Regions from separate parts of the Homo sapiens genome. Here region 1 is linked to region 2. Evidence: fine-mapped expression QTL. A gene starts in region 2. The other region holds a variant in brackets. All regions are shown on one strand. Distances are between the middles of the regions. Region 1 overlaps ONECUT3 (one cut homeobox 3). Region 2 holds the start of ONECUT3 (one cut homeobox 3).

Region 1 (4,374 bases), 27 kb after region 2:
ATTTAGGACTTGGCTTGGGATCGTTCTGGTTGTGGAATGTTTTAGCTATGCTGAACTGTGGTCAGATCAGGTCAAGCCTCTTGGTCACAGAAGTGGCCCAGCAGCACTTTGGGAGGCCGAGACAGGAGGATCGCTTGAGGCCAGGAGTTTGAGACCAGCCTGGGCAACACAGCAAGACCCCACTTCTACAAAAAAAAATAAATAAAGTGGCCCAGGACTCCTGGATCCTTTTCAGATATCTTCGTATCACACACACACACACACACACACACACACACACACACACACACACACCCCTACCTGTTTCCGGACCCCACCCCAAACTTGGCCAGACCCCCACAGAAGGCTCTATCCCCGACCTGCCCGCCGGCCCCTCAGGCCCTCTCCTGCCTCCCCGCATGCCCACTTGGCTGTCACATACCAAAGAGCATGCGTTCTCCATGCAGGGATCAACACCTCCAGCACAATTCCTTCGAGCCTTTGACAATTTTCTCTGAAATACCTCAAAATATTTAATGTATAGTTTATGTGATTAAAAAAAAATCCTTAGCTAGTTTTTGGAATACGTGACTTGAAGCTTTATACCGTTAAATTATAATTTTGCAGACGATGGCATGTCGTTTCTTTGACGAGTTCCGTGGGAGACGCATTGAATGTCAGGGCTGGAGACCAGAGGGAAAGTTAGAGGGAGCGTGATCGCGAGAGAGACTGCGGCAGAAAGGACCAGTGGCGTTTACAGATTTCTTATTTAAATGAGTCCTTTAGGAAAGAAAGGAAGAGAGAGAGAGAGCGAGCGCAAGAGAGAGAGAGAGGGAGAGAGAGGGAGAGGGAGAGAGAGAGGCAGAGGTATACCTTTCTGTTCTCTGGCTTGTTCTGTTTCTTGTTTTCTGGAGTCATGTCTTATAAGAGTATTTATTATTCTCTGTGTTCTGTGTTCAAATGTAATTTAAGAAAAAAAAAGGAAGAAAAATGCAAAAAAAAAAGACAAAATGGAATTTGAGTTGGTGCATGACTAATGTACTCTTTCTTGACGCTAATTGTAATAAAGTGGTCAGGGTGGGGGGCGGGGGGCGTGGCCCGGTTCCGTGTCGCATCTGTGTGTCTGGTGCCTGATCGGTGCTGTTCAGTGGTTTTTCGTTACTGTTTCTTTCCTCCTTTCTAAGGAACTGTGTCCAGCCGGGACAGGTGGACGGGGCCCCAGGTAGAGGGGGCGGGAACAGAGCCTCAGTAGCCGGGTCTCCTCCACCTGCCTGTCCATCTCCACCCGAGATGCCACCTGCCTGCCCCAGCCAGGCGGGAGCCACCGAGCGTCCCCCCCTCAGTTCCTGGTTCTTGGGGGCACTCTGGTGTCATCGATATCTTAGACCCCCCCAACCCCCCATCACCCGGTTGCTTTCACTCTAGCATGAATTCCCAAGTGTCTTGTTCAGAGGAGACAGACAATCAGCCTATTCTTGTCTTGTTGCCCAGGGTGGTGGGGGACGGGAGTGTGCCCCAACTTCCTGAGATCTGAAGGACCCTCCTGAGGGCCCCAACAGCAGGCACCAGCACCCCCTCCCCCCCCACCTCCACCCAGACAGCCTCGGCCTCCCTCCCTGGGCTGGGCATGAGTCCGCCTTTCTGTCCAGCCCGGGAGGCAGGGGGTGTACGCCTGCAGAGACCCCTCCCTCCCAGCCCACTTTCGGAGCCTACAGAACAGAGGACTCCCCAAAATCATCAAAGGGGGCTCTGGGACAATGTCCTCTGCCTCTGACTCCTCTTGTGCCATGAGGCCACGTCCCTGAGCCATCCCCAGATAGTCCCTGGAGGTGGAAAGGGGCACAGATGTGCCAGCTTGGGAACAGAGGCTGGAGGAGAGGGCGGCAGGGGAGAGATGAGAGGGGCCGCTTTTGGGACAGGCCCCAGTAGGGGGGGGCGGGGTAGCTAAACGGGGTGCTTCTCACCCCATAAAGCAGCAAGCCCTGGTCTGGAGGGCTGGGCCTGGGGCTGAGGGCTCAGCTGACCTCAAATCTGAAATGATGCCGGGGCCAGGATGCTCCTTGCACCAGCAGGAGCTTGGGCCATTTCACATTCTCTGCCCCAAGCGGTTTAAGCAAAATCAGGCCAGTAGACTCCTGGGGCTCCTCCTCGTGGCCCTGTCAGACCACGCAGGGGCTGGTTTTGGTGGAATGAGCTCAGCCGGGGGTGACGGAAGAGCCAGGAGGCCCTGCGGCCTTGAGTGTTTTGAATAGACTGGAACTGAGGGCTGCTTTCAGGGGAGACACCACTTGGACCCTCCAAAGTCCCCTCCCCTCCAGGGACAGGGGAGAGAAGCCCTTTTCCACCTTCACCCTTGGGCGACAGGCTTAAAAGCTAAAAAAAAAAAAAAATCTCGTCATTGTTAACCATTGCTGTGCTGGGTTTGTTGATTTGTTTTTCTTCAATAAATTATTTTCTAGTCACTCACCTGGGCGTGTGTGTTAGC[T/C]GACGGGTCGGGCACAGATAGGGGGCGGGAATGGAACTCGCCCACCTCGAGGCTGGGGAGGGAGGACCGGAGTGCAGGGAAGACGGACTTTGCTTCCACCCAGCTCGCCCCTCTCTGCTCTGAGTCCCGTCTTCTTCCTGGGCCAGTGGCCAGCTCTGAGCCTCCACAATCCACACAACTCCACCACCCACACAAGTCCACCACCCACAGGGAATGGTAAGAATCAGAAAGAGGCCAGGCGCGGTGGCTCACACCTGTAATCCCAGCACTTTGGGAGGCCAAGGCAGGCGGATCACGAGGTCAGGAGATCAAGACCATCCTGGCTAACACGGTGAAACCCCGTCTCTACTAAAAAATACAAAAAATTAGCCAGGCATGGTGGTGGGCGCCTGTATTCCCAGCTACTCAGGAGGCTGAGGCAGGAGAATGCTGTGAACCCGGAAGGTGGAGCTTGCAGTGAGCCGAGATCGCGCCACTGCACTCCAGCCTGGGCGACAGAGTGAGACTCCGTCTCAAAAAAAAAAAAAAAAAAAGAATCAGAAAGAAAAGCTTGGCGCCTTAGAAGGAAAAGCTTGGCGCCTTTGAGTCAACCAAGCCCCAAGATGCACACCTTGTCAGGACCTGCTTCTGTGACATCACTGCTCATTGCTTTCTGGAGTCTAAAGTGAACGGAGGCCCCAGTGAATGAAGGTGTATTTGAATGGGAGAAACCAGGGCTTCCCGATAGAGGAAGAAGCTAGATGGTACAAGAACTGGAATTTATAAACTTTCTTGGGAGGGGCCAGCTGTCAGGCAGCGGGGGAGCCACAGCTTTTAATAAGCAACTTTTGAGAGCAATGAAGCTTTACCCACATTATCTTACCCCAGCATGAAGAAGGAAAGTTTTCCCTGCAAATACCCGGCTGGACCACTAGAGGTCAGTGTTTTGATTTTAAAAACCGGGAAGGAATATTCCATCACAAAAAAAGTGTAGGGAAAGAGGGAGCCTGAATTAGCGCTGGGGTCAGATGGACCCTGGTTTATTAGAAAAAGAAAAGCATGTGGAGTCCTTGTCTTTAGAGGAAGGCCCCCTGCATGCTGGTTGACTTGCAGCAGAACTGGCTGGAGCTTCTTCTTCCCAGGAAGGACATCTTCCTGATATGCCAGCGTGACTCCTTTGGGCTCGAAGATGCCTCTTCATCAGATGGGTCTAGGGATTCAGATGCTACGTCACTGCTGAACCCTGGTCCCCTCCGCAGAGGGCAATGACTGCTCCTCTGGGGGCAAGGATAGCTGCTCCTCCCCGGGCACCAGCAGCCACTCCATGGATGATGATGACTGCTTCTCCGCGGGCCACAGCTCCACCTCCATAGGCTGCTCGCTCGTGGACGTGGACGATTCTTCCAGACTTGGTGGCAGAGTCTCCACCTGAGATTTGTGGGTCTTGTCTGGAAGTGGCACCGTCCCCTCCTTGGGGGTGTGAGGCTCCTTTTGCCAGCTCTTCCGGAACGGTGTGGAGGGCTTCAAAAATGCTGACTTCTCCTCCGAGGAGTCTGGCTGGCTCTCCAACGTCAGCTGGCCTGAAAGAAATGACTGGCTCCCCAGAGGCTGTGGCTGGCTCTCAAATGACGACAGCTGGCTTTCTCTGTGCAACAGTGATTTCTCCTGAAAAGAATGTGACCTCTCCTTGGTCAACAGCAACTTCTCAGGAGAAGGTGGCCTCTGCTTGGGTGACAATGACCTCTCCTGTGCCCTTGGCAATTGCTCTTGGAAAGACTCAGATAGCCTGTTGCTGCTGGTGAGCACATATTTGGGGAGGGCAGGTTGGTTTTCTGGATGAAGAGCGGATTGTCTATCCATAGAAAATGATGAGCTAGGTGTAGGGGGGAGCTGTACTTCCTGGGAGGACACCTGCCCCTGTGGCTGGTGCT
Region 2 (4,374 bases):
GGACCTGCCCCTCTCTTCCCACCTGGAAGATGGGTGTAATTATGTAAACTCCAGAAATTATACCTGAACCCTGGAACTGGAAAGTTTAGGGACCGACACTTCAGGGGGCAGGAGTTAGCACTTGGGCAGATGTAGGAATGAAGGGGGGAACTCTAGGGCCACCACCCCCCCACCTTGGGCCAGAGACACCCGGAAAAATTGTGATTTGACTTCCCCCTCTCTGGGGCTGAGAGAGGAGAGTATGCCTGGTAAATAACAGGCACTTACTAAATGCCGAGCCCTAAGCAGCGAGTACTAACAGGGGTCCCCTTCAGCCCTATCCCTCCCCAGGACTTGGATCAGGCCACCTCAGGCTGGGGGCCCAGATCATTCAGGCCCCCTCTCTCTCTGGCTGTTGTGGTCAGCATAGACTCACCTCCGGCTCCCAGCTGGGCAGGCTGGAGGGCACCCCCTCCCACACCAGAGAAGGGGAAACTGAGGCACAGAAAGGGCCCTATTCCAGAGCCAACCTAGTCTTGGTTCAGAAAATCGCATCTCCAATGTGTAGCCACGTCTACAGGGGCCAGGAAATCTGGATGCAGGTGCAAAGCTGGGGCCGGGGTTTGCCCAGAAGGTTTGCACCAAAGGGGAAGTGACAGCCTGACTGTGTCCTCCCCTCTTCCTTCAGCTTTGAGCCCTGATGCAACCCTCTGAGATGGGGGTAACTGGGGGCTCCCGCGAACCGACTGCCTGACCCATCCCCTTCCTCTTCTAGAAAGTGCACAAGCGTTACCCCGGGGGTGGGGGGGGCAGAGGCAACGGGGAAGCAGGAAGGGGCTGAGGCTGGTTTTGGACTCTGCACCGTAGCCTCTGGCCTACAAGACAGAGCATCCTCTAGATTCTGGTCTGGCCCCTCCAGATCCGCAGCCCTGACCTTACCCCACTGGCGGGATCTAGTCCCCTGGGGGTCTCTCTGATTATAGGAGCCCTTCCCCCATCTATCCCAGTTCCCAGGGGCCCCTGGGGCTCACCTGTCTCCAGGTGCTGAGAAAAAGGAGACCCCTGCCTCCCCCCACATTGAAGAGAAGCCCCAGGGACAAAGAGGAGTTTGCACCAGCGACGTCTCAGAAGACAGGGGATCCAGCCTCAGCCTCCGTGGGCTGGAGGGTGACAGGGGCTCTTAGTGGTCACCCCCAGGCTCCAGTGCCTCCAGCGGCCGCACTGTAAAAAGGCCCTGCAATTAGAAGGGGCCTTTGGCAACCCCGAGGCCGGGCAGCCCATTGTACAGTTGGGGAAACGGAGGCCCAGGTGCCCACACATGGGCAGAGGCTGACCCCTGGGGCGCACGGAGGCCCTGACCTAGCCTTAGGACCTCCCTTTTCCCCCACTTCCTCCACAAAGAGGTTGTGGGAAGGGGGCTGTGACTCCGTAGGTGTGAGTGGGAGTCGGGGGAAGCTGAGCTTGCAGTGGGGATCTAGCTCCTGGGGGTCTGTAGGGAACGGGGGGGGGGGGGGACACGTACATTACAGGCGACCGTCCAGCCACACTCCCAGAAACTCCCTGGAGATGGACTTGGGGGTGCCAGGCAGAAAGCCACATCTGGGACTCTGGAGAGAATCACACAGAGACGCGAAATCGGAGACTCTGGGTCGAGGCCCCCAGCCCCACCTGGGCAGAGTCTGTCCTCGGACCCCCGCCCGCTGTCCCCCGGGTACGGCCTGCCCCAGCGGGCGCGGGCGGGCGCAGTGGCCAGGGACGCCGAAGCCCCAAGTCTGGCCGACTTCGGCCTGCTTGGTGCTCGAGTGGGGCCGGGGCGGGCGGAGAGCGAGGCTGCGGGAGGCAGCGGTGGCAGGAGCGGGTGGGCGGGGGCGCTGACGTCAGACCCGGGCCCGGGCGCCGGCGGCCGCTCCCCTGCCACATCCTGGTGGCCGCGCTCGCAGCCGGGCCGGGCCGTGCGCCGCGCAGCCTGGCAGCCTCGCGCGCAGCCACCGGGGAGCGGGCGGGAGTCATGCAGCGGCCTTGAGCACTAGGGGCCGGCGCTGAGGAGCGCGCGCGGCGGGAGGGCAGCCGAGCATGGAGCTGAGCCTGGAGAGCCTGGGGGGCCTGCACAGCGTGGCCCACGCGCAGGCGGGCGAGCTGCTGAGCCCGGGCCACGCGCGCTCGGCGGCGGCGCAGCACCGCGGCCTGGTGGCGCCCGGGCGCCCGGGCCTGGTGGCCGGCATGGCGAGCCTGCTGGACGGCGGCGGCGGCGGCGGCGGTGGGGGCGCCGGGGGCGCGGGCGGCGCGGGCAGCGCGGGCGGCGGCGCGGACTTCCGCGGGGAACTGGCGGGCCCGCTGCACCCGGCAATGGGCATGGCCTGCGAGGCGCCGGGCCTGGGCGGCACCTACACGACGCTCACGCCCCTGCAGCACCTGCCGCCGCTCGCGGCCGTGGCCGACAAGTTCCACCAGCACGCGGCGGCCGCGGCCGTGGCCGGGGCGCACGGCGGCCATCCCCACGCGCACCCGCACCCGGCGGCCGCGCCGCCCCCGCCACCCCCGCCGCAGCGTCTGGCGGCCAGCGTGAGCGGCAGCTTCACCCTCATGCGCGACGAGCGGGCGGCGCTCGCCTCCGTGGGCCACCTCTACGGACCCTACGGCAAGGAGCTGCCCGCCATGGGGTCGCCGCTGTCGCCGCTGCCCAACGCGCTGCCGCCCGCGCTGCACGGCGCCCCGCAGCCCCCGCCGCCGCCACCACCCCCGCCGCTGGCCGCCTACGGCCCGCCAGGCCACCTGGCTGGGGACAAGCTGCTGCCGCCCGCCGCCTTCGAGCCGCACGCCGCGCTGCTGGGACGCGCGGAGGACGCACTGGCCCGCGGGCTGCCCGGAGGCGGCGGCGGCACAGGCAGCGGCGGAGCGGGCAGCGGGAGCGCCGCGGGGCTGCTGGCGCCGCTGGGCGGGCTGGCGGCGGCCGGGGCGCACGGGCCGCACGGGGGAGGCGGCGGCCCCGGCGGGAGCGGCGGCGGCCCCAGCGCGGGCGCAGCGGCCGAGGAGATCAACACCAAGGAGGTGGCGCAGCGCATCACGGCGGAGCTGAAGCGCTACAGCATCCCGCAGGCAATCTTCGCGCAGCGGATCCTGTGTCGCTCTCAGGGCACGCTCTCCGACCTGCTGCGCAACCCCAAGCCGTGGAGCAAGCTCAAATCCGGCCGCGAGACCTTCCGCAGGATGTGGAAGTGGCTGCAGGAGCCAGAGTTCCAGCGCATGTCGGCGCTGCGCTTGGCAGGTAGGAGCGTGGCGCGCAGGGCCAGACCCTGGGGGCGCCGGCTCTGGACTCCCGAGCACCTAGCGGGGCGGCGGCCGATGCCCGGGGCCAGCGCCCCAAGCCCCGCCCGTGCGCCCCGGCAGCCCGGGACCCCCTATCAGGAAGCTAGACCGCGATCCGCGCCGCTGCCCGTTTGTACCGTTGCCAAAAGGGAGAAAGGGATTGTGCCGCCTCCCCGCCCCCCGGTCGCCGCTTCTGCCCCTTTCGGGAGCGCGTAGGGGTTCTCTAGTCCTTGTTAGACTGCTGGGAGGCTCCGAGCCTCTCCCCAAGCAGCCCTCAGGGAAGCTCATTGTGTGTGTGCGTGTGTGTGTGTGAGCGCGCGCCTGTTGGGGGGAGCTGTGTCCCCGAACGAGCTGCTGTTGTCGGCTAAGGTGCCACTCCCCTCCTCCAGAGTGGGTGGAGAGGGGCTGTTGAGCCCCCAGCCCCGGGCCACAGAGCTCCGAGACGTTGCGGCGGGCGCCTGCAGCTCAGCAGCAGAGGCCGAGCCCGCGCTCATCCCCCCACCTGCCCCAGCGCGCGCTTCTTTGTAGTTCGGCCCCGCGATCGATACCCCCTCCCTCTCCCCTCCGGCCGCTGGCAAAGGTCACCCGAGAATGGCGGGGGAGGGGCGGCCCCGGGGACCCTCGGCCCGCGCCGCCCGGAGGCCTTCACACCCCGACCCGGCGCCCGCCCCGCGCAGTTTGGTCGTGGCTCGGGTGCGCGCGCCCCTGCCCGCCTGGCTTTGGGGTTTTGTGTCTCTCATGTCCACTTCTCTCCTCTCTCGGTCGGAACACACTGGTATCTCTATGTTTTTCTCTTGCTCTCCGTTTTGCTCTTGTTCCTGCTCATTATCTCTTCTCCCTGTCGGTCTCTCCGCCTCTGTCTCTGTCTCATACTCAGCCACCGGCCCCCTGGGGACCCTCCTCCCTCCTCCCTCCCAGCTGACAACAGCTAAGTCCACACCTGCCCTCTGACAGGCAGCCCGGCCAGGCCCCCATTTCCTAGGTGGGGGTGTAAGGGTGCAGGAGGGCCCCTGGCCTAGGTGGGGGTTTCTTTCCCTGGTGGTGCTGGGGAGGGGGCTGTCCACCCGGGCCACAGGGACAATAGCCGCG

The links. PIP is the estimated chance that this variant, and not a neighbour inherited with it, causes the effect.
Region 1: its variant is fine-mapped to the expression of ONECUT3 in testis (GTEx, PIP above 0.99).

Annotation. Positions count from the first base shown.
Region 1 is chr19:1,778,620-1,782,993 of GRCh38, forward strand. It overlaps ONECUT3 (one cut homeobox 3), which reads left to right. Exons shown (of 2, transcript NM_001080488.2): 2 at 1-2,369. It overlaps ATP8B3 (ATPase phospholipid transporting 8B3), which reads right to left. Exons shown (of 29, transcript NM_138813.4): 29 at 3,456-4,374. Among named protein-coding and RNA genes, the nearest start is that of ONECUT3, 27 kb to the left of the region's middle. The variant T/C (reference allele first, on the strand shown) is at 2,465.
Region 2 is chr19:1,751,611-1,755,984 of GRCh38, forward strand. ONECUT3 (one cut homeobox 3) reads left to right here and starts at 1,896. Exons shown (of 2, transcript NM_001080488.2): 1 at 1,896-3,244. The coding sequence starts at 2,053.